Regions from separate parts of the Homo sapiens genome. Here all the other regions are linked to region 2. The links come from fine-mapping of genetic effects on gene expression. A gene starts in region 2. Each other region holds a variant in brackets. All regions are shown on one strand. Distances are between the middles of the regions.

Region 1 (6,400 bases), 250 kb before region 2:
CGCATACACCCAGCTGTTTGTTTCCCACAGTGTCTCAAGATAAGTACCTTTTGCATAAGGATAACTGTTCCTAACCAAAGCGTCCATTCTCCAGAGCATTTGCTTCACATTCTAGCTGAAGGGTGGTCCTACAGACAACATCCTCCTCCCCGAACCCACTGTTCCTTCTCTATTCTCCAGACTGAACTTCTTGCCTTACTTACCGTGCTGTGGATGAGACACTTCAGAGACAAAGGACCCAGACTGGACAAAAACTGGCTCAGACATCTTTTTTAAGGGCATAAATCTGTTCTCCTCCCCCTCCTACCCTTTTCCTGTACTTCACAAGGGACTTCCAGGTTTCCACCAGACAGCCATCATCAACAGCCAGCTTCCAGACAGAACTTGTGCAGAGAGCTTTCTGTGAACATGAATAATGTTCTCTGATATCCTTTTGAAACAGCACCAAGATGGGGCAATTTAAAAAAAAAAGCGAGATCTCTGTTTAGTGAGTTGAAACTTAGATTCCTAAAATAAAGGAGGAGCTTCAATGGACTGGGGGAACCTTTTGAGACGCACTGCGGGGAAGGGTTCCATCCATCTGAAGATTTAAGTTATATAAATTCTGGCAATCGTGGTCCCAATCAACTTTCCTCTATATCACAAAGAAACCCACTTAGAGCCAGTCATACGTCAACGGCATTCTTAGGGGAGCCACCAAAGCCACCCGCCACACGTGCATTTATCCTGGGAACTGCCGCATGCTTTGTTGTCTGCCCACTGTTTCCATGCGGTTCTTCCCGAGCTGTCCCAGGGTTCTGCAGTACCCCTCAGGGTGCCCCAAATCCACCACCTGGCAACACACTTGCTCCACTTGGCAGGGGCTAAAGAGAAAAATGAAAATGAGAAGGTGAACCCCAGAAAACACCGGAAGATAGGGTAAGTTTTTCTCTAAAGGTGACAACTGCTCATATAATATTCAGTCTTCAGTTGCCAATTCAAGACTTGAATTTGGGATTTGGTTCCTGCAAAAGTCCGGATCATCAGTGAAGGTCACAGGCACACTTGGATCTTTCCCAGGGAATCACCACAGAAGCCTCTACGCCCCTAGCCATCTGCTTTGTCCTAGTGCGGAACAAGCAGGATTAGAGGGAAATGACACCGTGACTTTGTCTGGGACTCATCTGCAAAGTGAAACCTTAGACTAAGAGTAAGGCCATCTCTTCGCCTCTCGGAATCTACAGCCTCCTTCATAGAATGCCGATAGCAATATCCATTCACTAATTACATTATTTAACAGCCACCTAATTAATTAAAGCAGCATAAATGAAGACATGCACAGAGCAAATGTCAATAAATGTTTGCCACATGTTGGTTTGCACCATGCAGACGTCCATGTCCAAAGTCACCCCATCCTGTTAGGTTCTGCAAATTACTCGGGGGTAATTCGGGAACTCAAACTCCCGGTCAACCAATCCGCTGATGAGAGAACATTCATTTGCTTTGTCTTTCTCCAACAGCCAGCCTGAAATAAAGAATGAAAAGGAAACACACTAAAAAACATGATCCCTGGACAGAACCACCTTTCAGAACAGCAGGCGGCTGCTGTGACTGCCATGTCACTGCGTTCTGCTCCCAGCTCCCTATCTCACACAGCAATCCTAAACAGAGGCTCAAGGTACTTCCTTCTGGAGAAAATACAGAGCTCTGTCTTCAGTCATTCAGTCAACGTGGGCCCAAGAGTTCCAGAGCGAGAGGAAGAAAGCACACCCACCAAGTTCTCTAATATCAAAATAGAGCAATTTATTCAAGACACTGAATATGATCTGTTGATTCTCTCTTGAAACAAATGAGCTACAACACACAAGGTGATTTTTTTTTTTTTCTTCAAAGAGCGTGAGGGTGAGTACAGGTGGCGGGGGGAATGAAAAGGCGGTCGCTGTCATCTGAACAGAATCGGAAAAATGCCAATAGAGAACATGTCTGGCTGTACGTCTGACACAGACAATAAAAACTGCACAAGCCAGAATGCAAAACTTCAGTGAGTGGCGGAAGGAACATTTCTGCATTTGACAAGAAACATAAGCTTTTTTTTTTTCTTTTTTTAAATGGCGGAACAAAAGGTTAAAAAACAGAAAAGCAACAAGAACAAAGCAGACCCTTACATTTGACAAAGTGCACTTCACTTGGCTCCATGATCTATTTCTTAGAAAGACTAAACAAAAGTCAAGTCCTACGGTGTCGCGAGGGGTCAGAGGGTTTCACCCTGTAACGTCCGGCCCTTTTGGTCCCCCTTGGGGCAGCATCCCTTTCCCAGGTGTGTGCTGGACCTGACTCTCGGTCACTGTGAACCCGACCAAACACTCTAGGAAGGTCTGTCATGCTATGTCTGCTTTCAAGGTCACGTTTGGTCACTAAGACTTAGGCATTCCTCACCATGTTTTAAGAGCTGTAAACAACGTTGAACAATAACATTCCACAGGCCATTTCTTGATTACAGGGATGACTCTACCAACATGCCAGCAGCAGAGAGGGTGAGTAGTGGTGTGCAAATGCTGGAGGCTCTGAAAACGGCTGTCCATGGTGTTGTCCCGCTGAGAACGGGGATGGATATGAAGGGTGCTAGCTGCATCTCGCGCTTGGTTTTGCTTGCGGCCGCAGGCTGGGGAAGCCAGGGATGGAGCCTGGGGTCCGAGGCCTCCCAGCCCAGGTTTCTACCTAACAATTCCGACATGGTTCACATTCATCAAGACTAAAGCCATCCCTCGGGAGAGACCCTGGCTACCGACATTCATGTGAAGATTGTCTAGTGAATTGCTTGCGACACATCCCACCATCGCCATCCCACAGTTGTTACTGGTTTGTCAAGCATAAGCCATGCCCTAACGACAGGCTGGCCTTTGACAGCAGATGTTCTACAGAGATGAGTGCATTTTTATTTGGGTGGGGTAGAGATGGTGTCTTTTGGACCCCAACAAACTGTACTCTAAACTTCACAGAGTCCTTGGGACGGGAAATCATCACCTCATCCAGGGACACTGGCTATCTTCAAAGATGGGTGCGGCGACTCCACATCACTGTGACCTTCTTTGCTAAGTGTTTCGGAAACAGAACACGAATAAAATACTCATCTCAGAACCAGAGCACTTTTTGGTCTTCTGGGACATGAATAATTCACATACCCAAGTGGAGGCCAATCAATGATCTGAGAATGATCAACGCACCCTGGCTTTTGCAGGTGGTCCTGGCACGTTCCAAGTTCCACAGAAGCCCTGACCCTTCCCCGATGGCTGGGTTTTGGCTCCGCAGATGAATGCCACCTTCACAATAACACCGTCTCACTGCTGGAACACACACCAGATTGCACCCTACCCACTGCTGGTGACCCAGCAGCCCCCACGGGCTGGGCCATCTTCCTCAGCCCTTCTGCCCACAGGAAAACCAATGGGAGAAGAGGCCCTTGTCCTTTGGCCTTTTCCCCCTTGCTAATGACAAAAATAAGTCCGTGTCGGGTTATGACAGCAAGCAGATGGAGGTCACCAGATTCACTGAAATGAAGCTCTTCTAGGAACACAAAGCCTTGTTTAATTTTTTAAAAACAGCAAAAAGATTATTTAAAAAAGATCTTTCTCCTAGTCTTCTGTGAGACAAAGAAATTAT[A/G]AAGATGGCAGAAATTATTAGCGACGTTCTACCTCTATAATTCACGTTCAGGACTGAAAATCTTCCTTCTGCATTCATTTCTGTCAGCGTTAGACTAAGTGACATGCGGGCGCCTCTATGTCAGCTCTGCAAGGACTCGCCAAGCCTGCTCTTGGAGAAATGACCATCGGTCGTTATACGGTTGTGGGAAAGATGTAGCCAACACGCCTAATCCAGCCGAGCAGTCGGTTTCGACGGCTTCTGCAGTACCTTATGGTTCTGCCAATGCTCCCTTGAGGCCAGAGGGCGCGCGGCTCTTCGCTGCTTTCCTGCTGGCTGCCAAGGTGCATACACACCAAAAGATGCGAGGTTCTTCTTCCAGCCGGCATGGCGGGGACCTCCCTCACTGGCTGCAGAGCAATCTCGCTGCTGACCCCGAAGACTGACCCTTGTCCAGCCAGAGTTTTCCTGACCACCTTTCCTGAGGCTGAGGGGAAAGCCAGGGGCTCCCTCAGGCCCTGCCTGTGGCTTCTTCGGTTCTTTTTAAAACATGAATCACACAAAGCTCTCTATGTCTGATGGCCATTTTAAGATTTTAAAATTGTTTTAACATAAAAATATTATTTTTTTTTCCAAAAATACTCCAGGCTCTTTCTCTTATAAGTCATTTTTTTTTCTCCTGTAAAAAGCCCCCCTGCCCTGCCTTCTTACATAAAGCACTTACTACGCGCCAAAGTGCCCTTGAGACCTAAGATCTGAAGCAACTATGAGAAAGGTACAGAGGGAGAGAGAGAGAGAAAGAGAGCACGCCAGTGAGAAAGCGAGCGCGAGCGCGAGCGCAAGGGGAGGAGAGGGTGGGAGAGGGCGGAAGGGGGAAAGCTGTCCGTGGGAGATTGTGTCTTCATGTCCACGGGGCTGCATCTCTTGATGGTGCACTGAAAAAGCAGAGCTCACCAGACAGAGTGGAAAGGCAGGGGGAGGGGCAGGGAGCAACAGAAGGAAGAGACAACAAGCCCAAGACAGCTTCCATCTCAGACGGAAGGCCCCCAGAAGATAGAATTCCAGCCGACTGAAAAACCACCCAATGAACAAAGAAGATTCTAGAAAATAGAAAGTGTTGGGATTACAAAGTTGCGCGTTTCATCGGTACAAACTGGTCTTTGAACCTCCTTTGTGAGAGCAATTGTAGTGTCCAAATTGTTAGGGAAAACAAAAAAAAAAAATCCCAAGGAGGAGGGTTTTTCCCCCTTCCCTGTTTGGTTTATCACAGCATTTTGCTTTTTTTTTGGCACAGCTTTTTACGTTTCTTTCCATTCAGCCATCACAGAGCCTGTTCCGGGTGGAAACCAATCCACACGCCTCGAGCTGGTGACTTCCTCCTTCCCAGGCTGAATGTCCTCAGTGGAAACCATTCTATCCCCGTTTGATATGATTTGCTTCTGTTTTTGCTTGCCTTTTAAAAACTTCTTGATGAAGATTACGAAAACATATAGACTCCTGCGGCCAGAGACGAGTTGGTTTCAGAGTACACTCTAACGCAAGTCAAGTTCCTACAGTTTTGGAGAATAGAGCTGCAACCCTACACATTCACGGCTGGTCATTAGAATTCTTTTCTTTTTTCGATAATATTTTGTGGTTACTTCCGCAGATCCAAAACACACACCTGGAAGGAAAGATAAAGCACCTGTCATCTTGAGAGACAATACAAAGATGCCTTTAGAGTGAGAAGTCGGCAAGCTACGGCCCCCACGCCCAATCTAGCCCTCCACCGATGTTTGTCAGTAAAGTTTATTGGAACATCGTCATGAAGGGTCAGAGAAGCTCTCATAACAGACTGGCATCTGGACATCGGACCGAGCAAACTGAAGCAAACAGCACAGAGCAGAAAGGCCAGGTTAAGGGTAATGATAGGAATTAACAGAGTGGCAGAGGTCCCAGAAGGGACACCTGCAATCGTGGGGCAGATGACAATACGAGCCCAAGTACACAGCCTCTGACAACATTTGGGGACTACTCTGACCCTTGGCCGTTCAGCCAGAACGGCCGCTTGCCCCAGAGGTCAGGGCAACCTCAAGTCCAGGGGAAAATAAGAAATCCAGATGCCCCATGGGAAGAGAAGAGGGCCCAGGAGACCTGCAGGATGGCCACCAGAGGCCCGGGCTTCTCAGCCACAGCATGGGTGACAATTGTGGCCACCCTGTGCACAGTAGGAGGTTTAGCAGCATCCTCATCTAAGCACAGTCACGCGTCACATAATGACGTTTCCAGCAACAACGCACCGCACAGACCGCAGTGGTCCTGTAAGATTATAACCATATATCTGCTGAACCTTTTCTATGTTTAGATAGATCCGGACGCACAAATGCTTACCATTGTGTTCTGGTTGCCTACAGGAATCAGTATGGTCACCCGCTGTCCAGGTTTGTAGCCTGGGAGCAATAGGCTGTACCACACAGCCTCGGTGTGGGACAGGTATTATCATCTAGGTTTGTGTCAGTCACTCTATGATGTTCAGACAAAGATAAAAGTGCCTAATGACACATTTCCCAAAACGTTCCCGTCATTAAGCGACACATGACTGTAGTGACAACCTAAAATGGCTCCAGATATTGTCTAATGTCCTTAGAGGTGCAGAATCACCCTGGTTGAGAACCACCAATTTGACTGAGAAAATGTTGACTAGAAGGACACTCTGGAAGGGACAAGGAGAAGGCCATTCCCAGATGTGGTACCAACTCCGATGGGATCCAGCCCAGAAGCTTCCTTTGGCACTGGGCTAGGC
Region 2 (6,400 bases):
CTAAGGGAGGAAAAAAAGCAAATCCAAGGCATCAGGAAAGCAGTGGGAGGATGGTCCTGCCTCGCTGGGCAGAGAAGCTGTGCTGATCAGCTAAGCCAGGAGGCCCACAGGGCACTGCTGCGGGGCAGAGCACCGGAATCTGGACGCCCTGCAGAAAACTGGGAGGGGGCCGGACCCAGGTTCTAGCGGAGGTGTGCTCCTATCCAGCAGGAGTAGATCGGATAATCTGAATTCCTGACCCTCGGGACCTGCTGGAGATGGCCTCCCTCTGCAGGGACCATTTTCCCGCCTCTGTTCGTCACCTTAAAAGGTGAAAAAAAATCTTCTAACTAAGATGATGTTGTACAGAACCAGTGGTACTGATATAATTGATGGGAAAACTCCAGAAATTGAAACATTCACTTCTAAGTATGTCTACAATAAAGTTATTTTTGCAAACTGTTTCCTCTTTAAAACCACTGACAGAGAGAAGTTCTCTGAGGTAAAGGGGCAAAATGCCTGAGAGTTGGGGAGCGAGGGTGGCAGCACTACACCACAAATCTCCATATTTGCCCTACAGGTGTGTGTTCTACTAAGGGCTGGAATCGCCTTAAGGGCCGGTGATCCAGTGATGAACAACTTTTGTTGTTTGCATTAGTTACCCAGCTTGGTGGCTTTCCACAAAAATGTGCAGCACATTTGAGACAGGACTACCCTTTAAAATAAACGCGTCATACTCAACGTTCTTCTGTATTTTATTTTTCCTAATTACATCTTTTCTAGGAAGGACTTGTAAACTTTTCATAAAATCGTCAAGTGCCACTTCCAACACCAAAGCCACTGCCTGGAACCTTAGCAGGGAGGTTGCCTTCCTTCCCCCTCGCCTTCCAGGTTAAACCAGGGACTGGGCGATGTTTCAGGAGAGGAAAACATCCAAAAGGCAGGTCAAACCACACATGACAATGCAAAGCAGAAACAGTTGCAAATACAATAGAGGGTAGGTTTTTGTTTCTTTTTAGGTTTTGCTCCAGAACATCACTGACTCGAGAATAAACGTCAGTCCCTACCTTTGTGGAACGTCCAACGCAGCTGGCTGGGGGAACACGAGGCCTTGCAGGGAGCGAGCCCCGGCCCCGGTCTGACGGAACACAGGCGACGCACGTGAAGTCCAGGCCCTATCCCAGCGCAGGCGGGCCTCCAGCGACCCACAGTTGTCACATATCCGGCCAGCGCCGACTCCCGAAGGCGCACTCCCCATACTCCACTCCGAGCACCGGTCCCATCGTTAGGGAAGGTCCCCCTGGATAGCAAGGCCGGGGCCCAGGATCTGCGAGACCCACCCCACCCGCCCCGTCAGAGCCCAGGAGCAGCAACAGGTCTGCGCTCTCCCCGGGCGGCGCTCTGCAGACCCTCGACGGGCCAAGGGTGCCCCCAGCCCAGCCGTGCGCTCAGGCCGGGGAGATGGGCGGAGGACTGGGGCTCCCGACTTCCTTGACAGTTTCTGCGCGTCAGAAACTGAGCAGACACGGGGCCCGCGCCACCTCGCCCGCCGCTTGCCCCACTCCGCGAGGCTGCGCTTCCACCCGGGTCCGGGAGGGCCGGCCCGCGTCCCGGGTATGAATGGGGCTCTTCTCCCCAACAGCGGGGAAATCCCGCCACCGCCCTCCACCCCGGTCCCCGGAGCCCGCGGTGGCGCAGGTTTGCCCAGCAAGCCCCTGAATCGGCAGACAAAGGGGCACCGGAGGAAAAGCCGAGCGCTTCCCTAAACTTACCGGCCACTTCCCCCTCCCCAAAACAAAGGAGCCCCCCGCCGACCTCCGTCTCTCCCCGCAAGGCGCGCCGGCACTTCGGGGAGCGGCCACCTCGGGGTATTGTTCAGGCTCCTGGGAGCGCGCCGCACCCCAGTCCGAGCGCCGCGGGGACAGTTGGCGACCTGCACCTACAGGAGTTCCAGGGGCGGGTGGAGCGTTCGGGCGCCCCGAGCCGCCGGCCGGACCCTGGAGGGTCAGCGCGGGACCCGCCTCCCCGCAGAAGTTTGCGGACCCCGCGCCCGGCCCGCCGAGCCCTGCGCACTCACCTCGTCGCGAGCAGCGCAACTTGTGGCGGCGCCGCGCGCCCGGCCGCGCTCCGAACCTCCCTCCAGCCGGCAGCCTCCGAGTCCCGGCCGTGCGGCGGCCGAAGAGGGCCCGGCGCCCCGGAGCAGCCGCGCGCCGCCCCCGGGCCGCCCCCGCCCCGCCGCCGCCGAGTCCCGGAGAGAGCGCGGGCGCTGGAAAGTTTCGGTGGCGAATGGCGGCCTGAGGGCGCTGCGGCGGCGGCGGGGCGGGGGCGCTGGCGGCTCCTCGCTCCCAAGCGCGGAGTGGGGGCGCTGAGGCGGGCGCGGCGGCGGCGGCGGCGGCAGCGGGAGAGGGCGGGACAGCGGGAGGGACTGGCACGGACAGTGACCTCCACGGGGAGCTGCCGCGAGCGCGCGGACCCCAGCCAGGAGGACCGCCAGGGGTCCGCCCCCGCCGCCGGCCCCTCCCTCACGGCCGTGGGAGGGGACCCGGCGTACCACCCGGCCCCGCCCCTGCGCCCCGGGGGAGCCGCGTCCCGAACCAGCCCCTCCCCTACGAGGGTAGGGACTCCGGCCCTGCCCCTCCCCCGCGGCTCCTAGTGGGGACCCGCGTCCCAACCCAGCCCCTGTCCCACGGTCGGGGGACCAGCGTCCCTACCAAGCCCGCCCCGCTCCCCCACGCCTAGGGTGGGTGAGGGGAACCCGGGCCTCTCCCTAGTTGCTCTGGTCCCGGTCCCTTCCCCGTGGCCTCCGTGGGACTGAGAGGACCCCAGGGCTACCCCCATCACATCCCAAACCCAGCCTTTCCACGACTGCCTCGAGGGGACGGGAACCTCGGCCACCCCCTCAGTTTCTAGGGGGCAGGGGAACCTCGATCACTGCTAAAGTGTTACCCTCCCCCACCCCAAAAAGGAAGCCACCCGGCTGCCCCAACAGAACCCCCTGCCACCTGCCCGATGGTGAATCTCCCTCAAAATCGGCGTCTTAGAAGACACCCCAGTAGTCTTTACCCCAGCTCAAAAAGTGGGGGTTCCGGCGGAGCCTCGACCTTTGCAAAACACCTCCCAAGAAGAGCCAGAAATGCTTAGGGACAAACTCAGACACACAGGCATAGGCGCCAGGAACTCGGGTGTGGGGGCTGAGGAGGTTGGGGGGACCTGGGCACTCGGGCCTCATCACTCCCACCCCAACCCCCCAGGCATCAGCCCTCTGGCCCTTGCAAAGTGCTTTATGTTGCAATGGCTTACACGGCCTGGCCCCGGTGTACCTAAGTCCCCAGCGCTCCTTCCTCCCCTCCACGTAGGCTACTCCCAACCACTCGCAGCCTTAATTCAGTTAAACAGATCTCCACTCCCCCTCCCCAGCACCTCTGGGGTCAGCCTCGTTGAATATTTTTCAAATATTCTTGCCCCTTCCTTTACTATATAATGAGCTTCGTGCTAAGAGCCCGGTACACTCAGCAATCTAAACTATAACCTCACTTGCTCTTCCTCGAACTCTAGACCATTTGTTGTTCTGGTTGTAGGGGGAGGGGGACCTAAGGTGAGGTTTTTGTTTTTTTGTTTTTGTTTTTGTTTTTCTGAGGAGTCTCGCTCTGTCGCCCAAGCTGGAGTGCAGTGGCGCGCTGTCGGCTCATTGCAACCTCCACCACCCTGGTTCAAGCAATTCCCCTGCCTCAGCCTCCCGAGTAGCTGGGATTACAGGCGCATGCCACCACGCCCAGCTAATTTTTTTTGTATTTTTAGTAGAGACGGGGTTTCACCATATTGGCCAGACTGGTCTGAACTCCTGACCTCAGGCAATCCGCCGGCCTCGGCCTCCCAAAGTGCTGGGATTACAGGCGTGAGCCACCGTGCCCGGCCGGAGGTGAGTTTTTAAGAGGCCGGTCCTCCACCAAAACGGCGGACCTCAAAATTACCCTGCAAAATATTGCTGTAAAACGTCAATGATGCAAAACGACTGTTGCTACACCATCATTAGAGGACATCAATAAAAAAATACACACTTACACAGTCTCCATAATTGTGAATCAGCAGAATAGATTGTGTCTTATTATGTATCAGTTGCCATTCAAGGCCCCCCAGAAGGACATGGTGGGGCCTTCCCTTGAGCCTGCCCTTCGTTGCTCCTGGGCTCCCTGGGCTTGTGCAGACTGATGCTGAGGTATTACATGCAATAGAAAAACGAAGGGTGCAATAGAAAACCCGAACGAGCTCATGATGCAACCCTGCCCTGGCTACACGTGCTTCCCTTCCCCCACCGCCTGCTGGTGGGAGTGCTGCGTTTTTTCCGCCTGTAGGGTCACATTGTGGTTGATTGATTCTCCTTTCGCCTTGCTCAGTCATTCAGATTTGGAAAGTAAATAACAAGTTGACATCATTACAGCTCTGGGCTTTACGCGGACGCAGCCCTCGGCTACCGCACACTCTGGAGTAGCTGCGCAGCCAACCAGCCTCCTAGCTTGCCAGACCTGCTTGTGGTTAGCAGTTGGAAATTCCAAGCTAAACTTGGTTAAAAGGCCTCTTTGTGTGTTTTGATTACTTGGCAGATGCCAGTCTTTTAAAGTATGGGAAAGTGGTGGAAATCCTCACTTTCAAACTGGAGCCCAGTGTGGCCAGGATTTACAGCTGAGCTCCTGTAATTGACAATGCAAAAGAGCTGAGAATTCATCTTGACTGTTTGACAATATCCCCATAATCCCACCACCCTTATTACCCGTAAAGAGTCAATATCTTTTATCATAGACTCACAGGACCCCAAAGGACACTGTAAGACCTAAGACAGGAAGAGAGACCGCCTACATTTATCGTGAAATCACCAAAATTCCTCTTTTTGAAATACTAGATGGACTGTAGGTGGGTGATAATTAGACTGTGTTATTTAATCTGTTTCAACGATTTTTCAAATGTGCAGTCCTATAAGGTGGGAGAAAACAAGGAAATAAAGTAGAGCGGCAAGGAGGTAGTGTATTCTGAGAAAGCTAAAGGATAACAGGGCGAGGGGTCCACAGTGATTTACACAGAAACCCACTGCACTAGCCATGTGCGTGTGTGCGCGTGTGTGTGTTGCAAACACTTATTTTCAGTTATTGACTGGAGGGAGGGGAAAACAAGAATCTGCTTGCAACAAATACTACCAGCATTCCCCATAAACAGTACCCAAAATTTTAATTAAAAGGCAGTAGGAATTCACACAAATATACTTAACTAATCTTTCACAAAGGAGCAAAGGCAATTCATCCTTTTTAACAAGTGGTGCTGGAACAACTGGACACCCATATGCCAAAAAAAAAAAAAAAACTAGGCTTTTTATCTTTCACAAAAATTAACTTAAAATAGAACATACCCCCAAATGTAAAAGGCAAAACTATAAAAACTCTTAGAAGATAACATAGAAAATCTAGATGACCTTGGGTTTGGTAATGACTGTGTAGCTAGAACACCAAAAGCATGATGCGTAAAAGAAAAAAAAATTGGTAAGTTGGGCATCACTAAAATTTGAAAAGTCTACAAAAGACACTGTTAAGAGAATGAGAAGACAAGTCACAGAATGGGAGGAAATATTTGCAAATTCCATATCTGATTAAGGATTGTATTTGAAATATGCAGGCCAGCATAGTGGCTCACACCTGTTGAGGCTGCTGTGAGCTGTGATCTCACCACTGCACTCCAGCCTGGGCGACAGAGAAGACCTTGTCTCTAATTTTTTTTTAGAGTGTGTGTGTGTGTGTGTGTGTGTGTGTGTGTGTGCGTGTACAGATATATGTACATATGTGTATATGTATGTGTATATATATATACATATTTCTTAAAACTCCACGATGAGAAAATAAACAACTGAATCAAAGAGCAAACGATCAGAAAAAAACTCATCAAAGAGATATACAGATGGCAAGTAAGCATATGAAAAGATGCTGAACATCATATATCATTAGGGAATTGCAAGTTAAAGTAACAATGAGATACTACTACATACATTAGAATGGCTAAAATCCAGAAAACTGACAATCCCAGATGCTGACAGGATGCAGAACAACAGCAACTCTCATTTGTTGCTAATGGGAATGCACAATTGTACAGCTACTTCAGAAGACAGTTCGGCAATTTCCTACAAAGCCAAACAGAGTCTTACCATACAGTCAGCCGTTGTGCCCCTAGGTATTTACCTAACTAAGCTGAAAACTTACGTGCTCCAAAAACCTGCACACAGAGGTTTATGGCACCTTTACTCGTAATCACCAAACACTGGAAGCAACCAAAGTATCCTTCACTGGGCGAATGGATAAACAAACTGTGGCTCACCCGCATAATGGAATATTACTCAGCACTACAAAGAAATGGGTTATCAAGCCCCCAAAACACACAAAGG
Region 3 (6,400 bases), 74 kb before region 2:
CAAGCAACATTTTTGTGTTTTTATATGGTTTGGTTATGTTTTGATATTGTCTGATTTGCAGGCTCCTTCTTTTCCCTGGCGAGTGAAATCTCTTTGCTTACTACTTAATGCCCCACAACAAAAAGTGAATTCTGACTTTTGTTTTCAATTGGAAAGGAGAGGTTGAGTTGGAAACTGGGGTAATATGAATGCGGCATCCTTCTCTGATTATTGACAGAAAAAGCATTTTACAACCTTTAAAAGACAATAAAAGAGGGATTTCACAAACAATATAGGATGCTGGACCAACTAAGAGTAATATTTCCTGGGGCTTGTCACTAAATTGGAGATTTTTCCAAAGAACATCCAAAGCACTAGTGAATACATAAGCATCTTATTTAAAACTATAGGAAAATATAATACTGACCTAACCACTGAATTTAGACTTGTTTGTGATGAAAGACTTAGTCTTTTGTTAATTGTTAATATAAAACATTTTGCTCTTCCTAAGTCAGCACATATTTGAAGGAAAGACCAACAATTGCCTTTGGCATCACTTCCCTCGGTTGTCCCAGCTCCGCGCTAACAAGCACAGTTTTTAATTTAACTTCCCTTGTGAAATGGCTCACTTTTTTAAAGAGAAAAACAGGGCAAGAAGACTTCATCTCCAATGGAAGAGCCACTGCCAGAGGTGGGGCCTTTCTGGTTCACAATTTCTCTCTGGCTTGCCTTCCCCCTCGCCAGCTGACTTGGTTGGCCTCAAACAAATTTCAACACAGTTGAGGGGCATCAGAACACTTGTATGGCTCTGGCCACAACCGCTGCAATAACCAGGCTCCTGTGAGTCAGTTGCCACCTAGTGTATAACCTTTGTTAACTTGCACCCCATGCCTGCATCTTTGTCTTGGTAACCCAACTAGTACACTAAACCCTCTAGAACCCAAATCCTGGCTAACGCATAAGTGTTCAGTGCTACCTCTGACAATGGGCTAGTGATGACAGTGATGATGATTAGTTACTATTATCTCTGTCCCCAGTGTGGATAGGGCCCATGACTTCATTTTAAACTGTAACACTTCTTGTGCCAAATTCTTCCTGCATTATAACTACCACCTACTGTGTACACACAGGTTATTCTGCACCTGTTCTGGATATTCTGTTCTGCCTGCAACTATGAATGTCTTTTAAGACCCCATCTAGAGCCAAATAAGTCCTGTGGCACATTTCTGAGTCACTGGGTTAGTCTAGTTCCAAGTCTCAGCTGTACTGCCTAGTAGGGTTTGCATTTGGTGGGGCATGCCCTGACCACGACTTGATAATGAAGGGGGTGGAGTGGGAAGATGTAATAACCCAGTCTTCACCTGTTTGACTGAGCTATGTGCCAGGCTCTGTGCCAGGTGCAGGACTACAAAGACGAGGATGACGTGGGCCTGCCCATGACACAAAGAACAGTTTGGTGAGGAGACAGATATCTCAAAAGACTATCACAAAACAACCCAGAAGTGCTATAAACAATATTCTCAGCATTTTACAGAACACTGATGAGTAGCCCAAAGCCATCTGGGTGGGAAACCGGGCTTCCTGAGGAAAGTGATATCGGAGCCACGTCAAAGAATAAGTAGAACTTAGCCATGAGGAGAAGAGGGGAGTAGGAATCATCACAGAATACCCCAAATTTATAACAGAAACTAACCTTTACCAAGTGCCCCTGCACCAAGATTTTGCCTATGTAATCTCATTGACCTCACACAACCACCTTATAGAGTACATACGGTCAACTTCATTCTTCTGATTAGGAAAAGCAAGCAGGAAAAGGTTAACTTGACAAGGTGCCACAGCTATGCAAAATGGTGGTGACACAATGCACCCTAATCTGAGTAACTCTCAGACCAACACAATTTCTATTGTACCTACGACCTTCATAGAACCACACTCTTGTGATAAAGGTCACAAGAAGCTCTTTGTGCATTTAATCAAGTATGCAATGTGCCTAGATGTTCCTTGTTGTCCTCAAACACAATGTATCCTTTTCCTCATTTTGGCCACCAAAAGATTCACAAAGGGAACAGAAATCAAGATTGTCATCCCCTCCTCTCAGTATCTCCCCATCAGAGTAACCCTAACTCACCGCTTCTCAACCGTCCTGTTATCTGAGTGCCACGTTCCCAGCAGCTTTTGCTGGCAAGGACAGCTAAGCCCTCCATCTGCTGCACTGCCCTGAGGCCTCATCTTGTGCTGAGAGGAGGGGCCCCAGCGGGCTTCTCCCCAGCAGGTGCACACGCACTCTGGCACCCTGGCACTGGGCCATGCAACCTTTCCCCAGCTGCCTTTCCCTACCAAAGGCGAAGCATGCAGACTTCAGGCTCATCAGAGAACGGAAACACCTTCTGGGGCTCTGGACACAAGGCACCCTCAAACAAACATCACCCAGGAAACTGATACAGAAAACAGAGCTGGAACCTCCCCCTCACCCTTCGGTACAAGAAAAGCATTGAGCAAGAGATGGGATAGCAGTTTTACAAGCGAGGAAGTATGAGGCTAATCTGTTCCCAAACAAAGCACCAAAGAGAAGATATCTGAAGGACGTACAGTCTAAAGTTTCAGCAGAGGATGGGAGACTGGGCACGTCCTAATATTTCGACAGATGTGTCTTAGTTTAAGGATAGCGCACATAAAAACTTTCCTTTTACCAAATTTATCTTTGGTAAACTAATTTCCCAGTCGGTGCCCTTGGAGAAATCTGTGTTAACTATTTGATAGTTCCCAATAAGAAAGGATACCTGGGCAAACATATGGTCCATGATATCCAAAGGAAATCTGAACCGCTTTTCTGCTATTGAGCAACATAAACCAGGCTGAAATTACTAAAATGGGGAGCAGCATGGTTACTACTAAGACCCGGGCTTTTGAAGACAGTGGAAAAAACCCAGACATTAAACCTAATCTCCAGTCCCATAATTGCTATTTTAACATTAACGGAACCTCCAGACATCAAGCACAGTGCAAACGTCCCAAGCAGTGAGCATTTCACGATTTCAACGCCAATGACCTGATCTCAGATGCACATTGGTGCAGTTGAGTCTGGTCACAGTCATAGAGCATCATGTTACTTCCAAAGCTTTCAACTCTGAAATTCTCATTTTGGGCCTCACTTCCCGCCACACCATTCCCCCTGCCTCGAGTGGCCTCACAACCCAGATCTGGCTCTCACCAAGGCCCCCAGCCGACAACTCGCTGCAGGTCACCCCTGTCTTCCCACCCAAACTAGGTCCTCAGGGCTATCAGGCCTAGGGTTGTCCTGTCTAATACAGCAGCCACTAGCCACACATGACTATGTAAACTTAAATCAATGAGAAGTAAACATATGCCAATGCTCATAGCAGCATTATCCACAACAGCCAAAAGGTGAAAGCCACCCATGTGTCCTCTGACAGATGAGTGGATAAACAGAGTGTAGTCCATCCATACACTGGAATATTA[T/C]ACAGCCTTAAAAAGGAAGGAAATTCTGACGCATGCTATGACATGGATGAAACTTGTGCTAAGCCAGACGCAAAAGGACAAATACCATATGATCCCACATATAAAAGGTCCCTAGAGTGTCAAAATCATAGAGAGAGAAAGTAGAACGTTGGTTGCTGGGGCTGTGGGGAGGGAAGAATAGGGAGTTTGTGTTTAATGGGGCAGTTTTCTGTTTGGTATGATGAAAAAGTTCTGCAGATGGATCGTGGTGAGGATTGCACAATGTAATGAATATTTAATGCTGTTGAACAGTGTACTTAGAAATGGTTATGATGGTAAATTCTGTTTTATGTATTTTACCACAATAAAAAAAATTGGGGGGCGGGGGGCAGTAGAGAGAGGAAACCTATCTGTAAGAGCACATTTTTCAATATGCCCAAACAAGAATATCAGGACCTTTTAATTGCTAATGCACGTAGATCACTCAAGACCACAGATGGCTCAAAGGTAAAAACCAAGATCCCTTTGGATCCCTCCCTGCCCGATGCATTGTGCTTTGCTCACAGTAAAAGCACTCAGTGATACTGGCTACATGGCAACAAGTACCAAATGATTACATGAGAGGTCTTTGGTAACTCTGAAAGGAAATTAGTGGATTGACCTTACAGTAATTGCTTCAAGACTTAAAAAGAAGGATTGGTAACTTAACGGCCTGGAAATCTTTCTTGGCGCATTCAAAACAAGAGAAAGCCTTTTGTAAACGCTTTGCACCTGTCTCACCACTGAAAGAGGGATTAAAGCCACTGCCTTGGTGCGAGAGGAGAAAATGTCTCTATGATAAAAGTCAAATTAGCAATATTTGACCTCCGGGTAATTTCACTCTGCAGCCCAGCTCCCCTTCTGCTGAGGTTAAAGGCACAACAGTGGCCAGGAGACAGCCCAATTTAAGAGTAACATGCGTCTAGTCTTATCAGAATTCACTGTTTTGATTTTATAGCAAAGTCAATGAGGCCCTTGGATTCTGTGGAAATTACCTCATAATTATTACCTGTGCAAGACAAATGTAACTTATTTAACTTTACAGGGCATTGCCAGTAAGACATGAATACTACATGATAAAAGTGCTCAATTTTGGCCAGGCACAATGGCTCACTCCTGTAATCCCAGCACTTTCGGAGGCCAAGGCAGGCAGATCACAAGGTCAAGAGATCGAGACCATGCTGGCCCACATGGTGAAACCTCATCTCTACTAAAAAATACAAAAATTAGCTGGGCATCGTGGTGCATGCCTGTAGTCCCAGCTACTCCGGAGGCTGACGCAGAAGAATCGCTTGAACCCGGGAGGTGGAGGTTGCAGTGAGCCGAGATCACGCCACTGCATTCCAGCCTGGTGACAGAGCAAGACTCCATCTAAAAAAAAAAAAAAATGCTCAATTCTGATGCTGGGGCAAACAAGAATTATCCAAGACACTTAAAATTGGACAGCTTTTTGTAATGGCCCAATAATAACGACTGTAATGCAGCAGCTTGTAAGGTACTTTAAAAAACAGAAAGGATATGTACTGAGGTTATCACAGGACAGAAGACTGCCTATGCCTGCTCACTTCAAATGGCCAGAGTTCATTTGAAACACAGCACAACCGTGTGCTTCTAGTGTTAAAATTCATGTGCCGCAGCCCACATTAGTGGATTCAGGCTGATCGATTTCAAACCATTCTGATGGCAAAGGGTGAATCATTTGAAAATGTCTTGGGAATATGATACAGAACCAAAAATGCTCATTCCCTACCTCTAGTTTCACCAATCCTCATACCAGCACTATCTATTGAAGGATTTGTTAAATGTCACTCTGTTCCTCGTATGCACACTAATTCCATTTTAAAAACTCACTCTATACACTCTTTTCAGAGTAATCAAGTAGAGAGGTAGTCCTACAGACTCAACTTTAAAGACTAGGATGTTTATACCCAGACAAGTAAAATATAAAGGGCACTGTCCTTTAACATTAATTTTGACAAGACATCAGAGCCAGATTTGATCATTTGGATATAATTAAAGAGTGCAAGGTTATTTTCACAAAACCAGAAAGACTTCTCTGATAGAATTCATCATCGCATCTTTAGAAGTTTGTGCTGACTCTCACATCAGGGGGGCTGCGTGTTTACAAACACACCCGAAGACTTTCACGATCAGGTATGCAGGGGAGACCTCAGGCCAGTGTGCCCAGGAGGTAGAATTCAGACACATTTCCAGTTAAAACTCTGGAGGCAAAAAAGTTTATTCCTCTGCACACTCGCAAGCCTGGCTGCAAGCCACACACACTCTTCACCTCCATTTCCTTCCCTCTATAAACAGAACCACATCTGTGCACGATGATTTCGTTTCCTTACAGGGGACTGGAAGCTTCCTCTCTGTCTCTCAAATAATGACAAAAATAACATTACTCAGGCATGCACAGCAGGCAAAGCCTTCTTGACAATTAGGATTTCAGAGCTTCTTTTTAGGGGAAAAGGGAGTAAGAATTCAAGTGGGATGGCTTCTGGAAGCCTGGGTCTGCACAGATCCCAAGCTGTGAAAAGACAGAAGCCCATGTGTCTGGCCTCTTTAAAAAAAAAGAGTAATATAAAAAGAATAATAAAAGTACTTACTGTTGACCGGATGCTCACCAAGCTCTGTTCTAAGCACTTTAACATGAACCAGCTTTTAAAATAATTCCACTTACACAAGCTACCTCAAGTTGTGAAATTCAAAGAAGCAGGGAGTGGAATAGTGGTTGCCAGGAGCTGGAGGGAGGAGAAACAGGGAGGAGTTGTTCAGAGGGTACATTGTTTCCATCCCGCAAATGAAAAGAGTCCTGGAGATGCTGGACAACTGCAGCTGACAATGCCTACACTCAGAGAGGGGGGAAGAGGGGAGATCTCATGTGGGACTTTTTTTAACCAGAATTTGTAAAATGCTGTAA

What was found. PIP is the estimated chance that this variant, and not a neighbour inherited with it, causes the effect.
Region 1: its variant is fine-mapped to the expression of TBL1X in whole blood (TOPMed, PIP above 0.99).
Region 3: its variant is fine-mapped to the expression of TBL1X in whole blood (TOPMed, PIP above 0.99).

What each region holds. Positions count from the first base shown.
Region 1 is chrX:9,715,101-9,721,500 of GRCh38, reverse strand. TBL1X (transducin beta like 1 X-linked) reads right to left here. Exons shown (of 18, transcript NM_005647.4): 18 at 1,761-5,281. The coding sequence ends at 5,255. Among named protein-coding and RNA genes, the nearest start is that of GPR143, 48 kb to the left of the region's middle. The variant A/G (reference allele first, on the strand shown) is at 3,640.
Region 2 is chrX:9,461,104-9,467,503 of GRCh38, reverse strand. TBL1X (transducin beta like 1 X-linked) reads right to left here and starts at 2,446. Exons shown (of 18, transcript NM_005647.4): 1 at 2,057-2,446. RefSeq lists silencers at 1,471-1,620, 1,921-2,060, 2,181-2,760 and enhancers at 2,991-3,190, 3,018-3,846, 4,221-4,515.
Region 3 is chrX:9,534,721-9,541,120 of GRCh38, reverse strand. The region is part of intron 2 of TBL1X (transducin beta like 1 X-linked); the gene reads right to left. Among named protein-coding and RNA genes, the nearest start is that of TBL1X, 73 kb to the right of the region's middle. The variant T/C (reference allele first, on the strand shown) is at 3,460.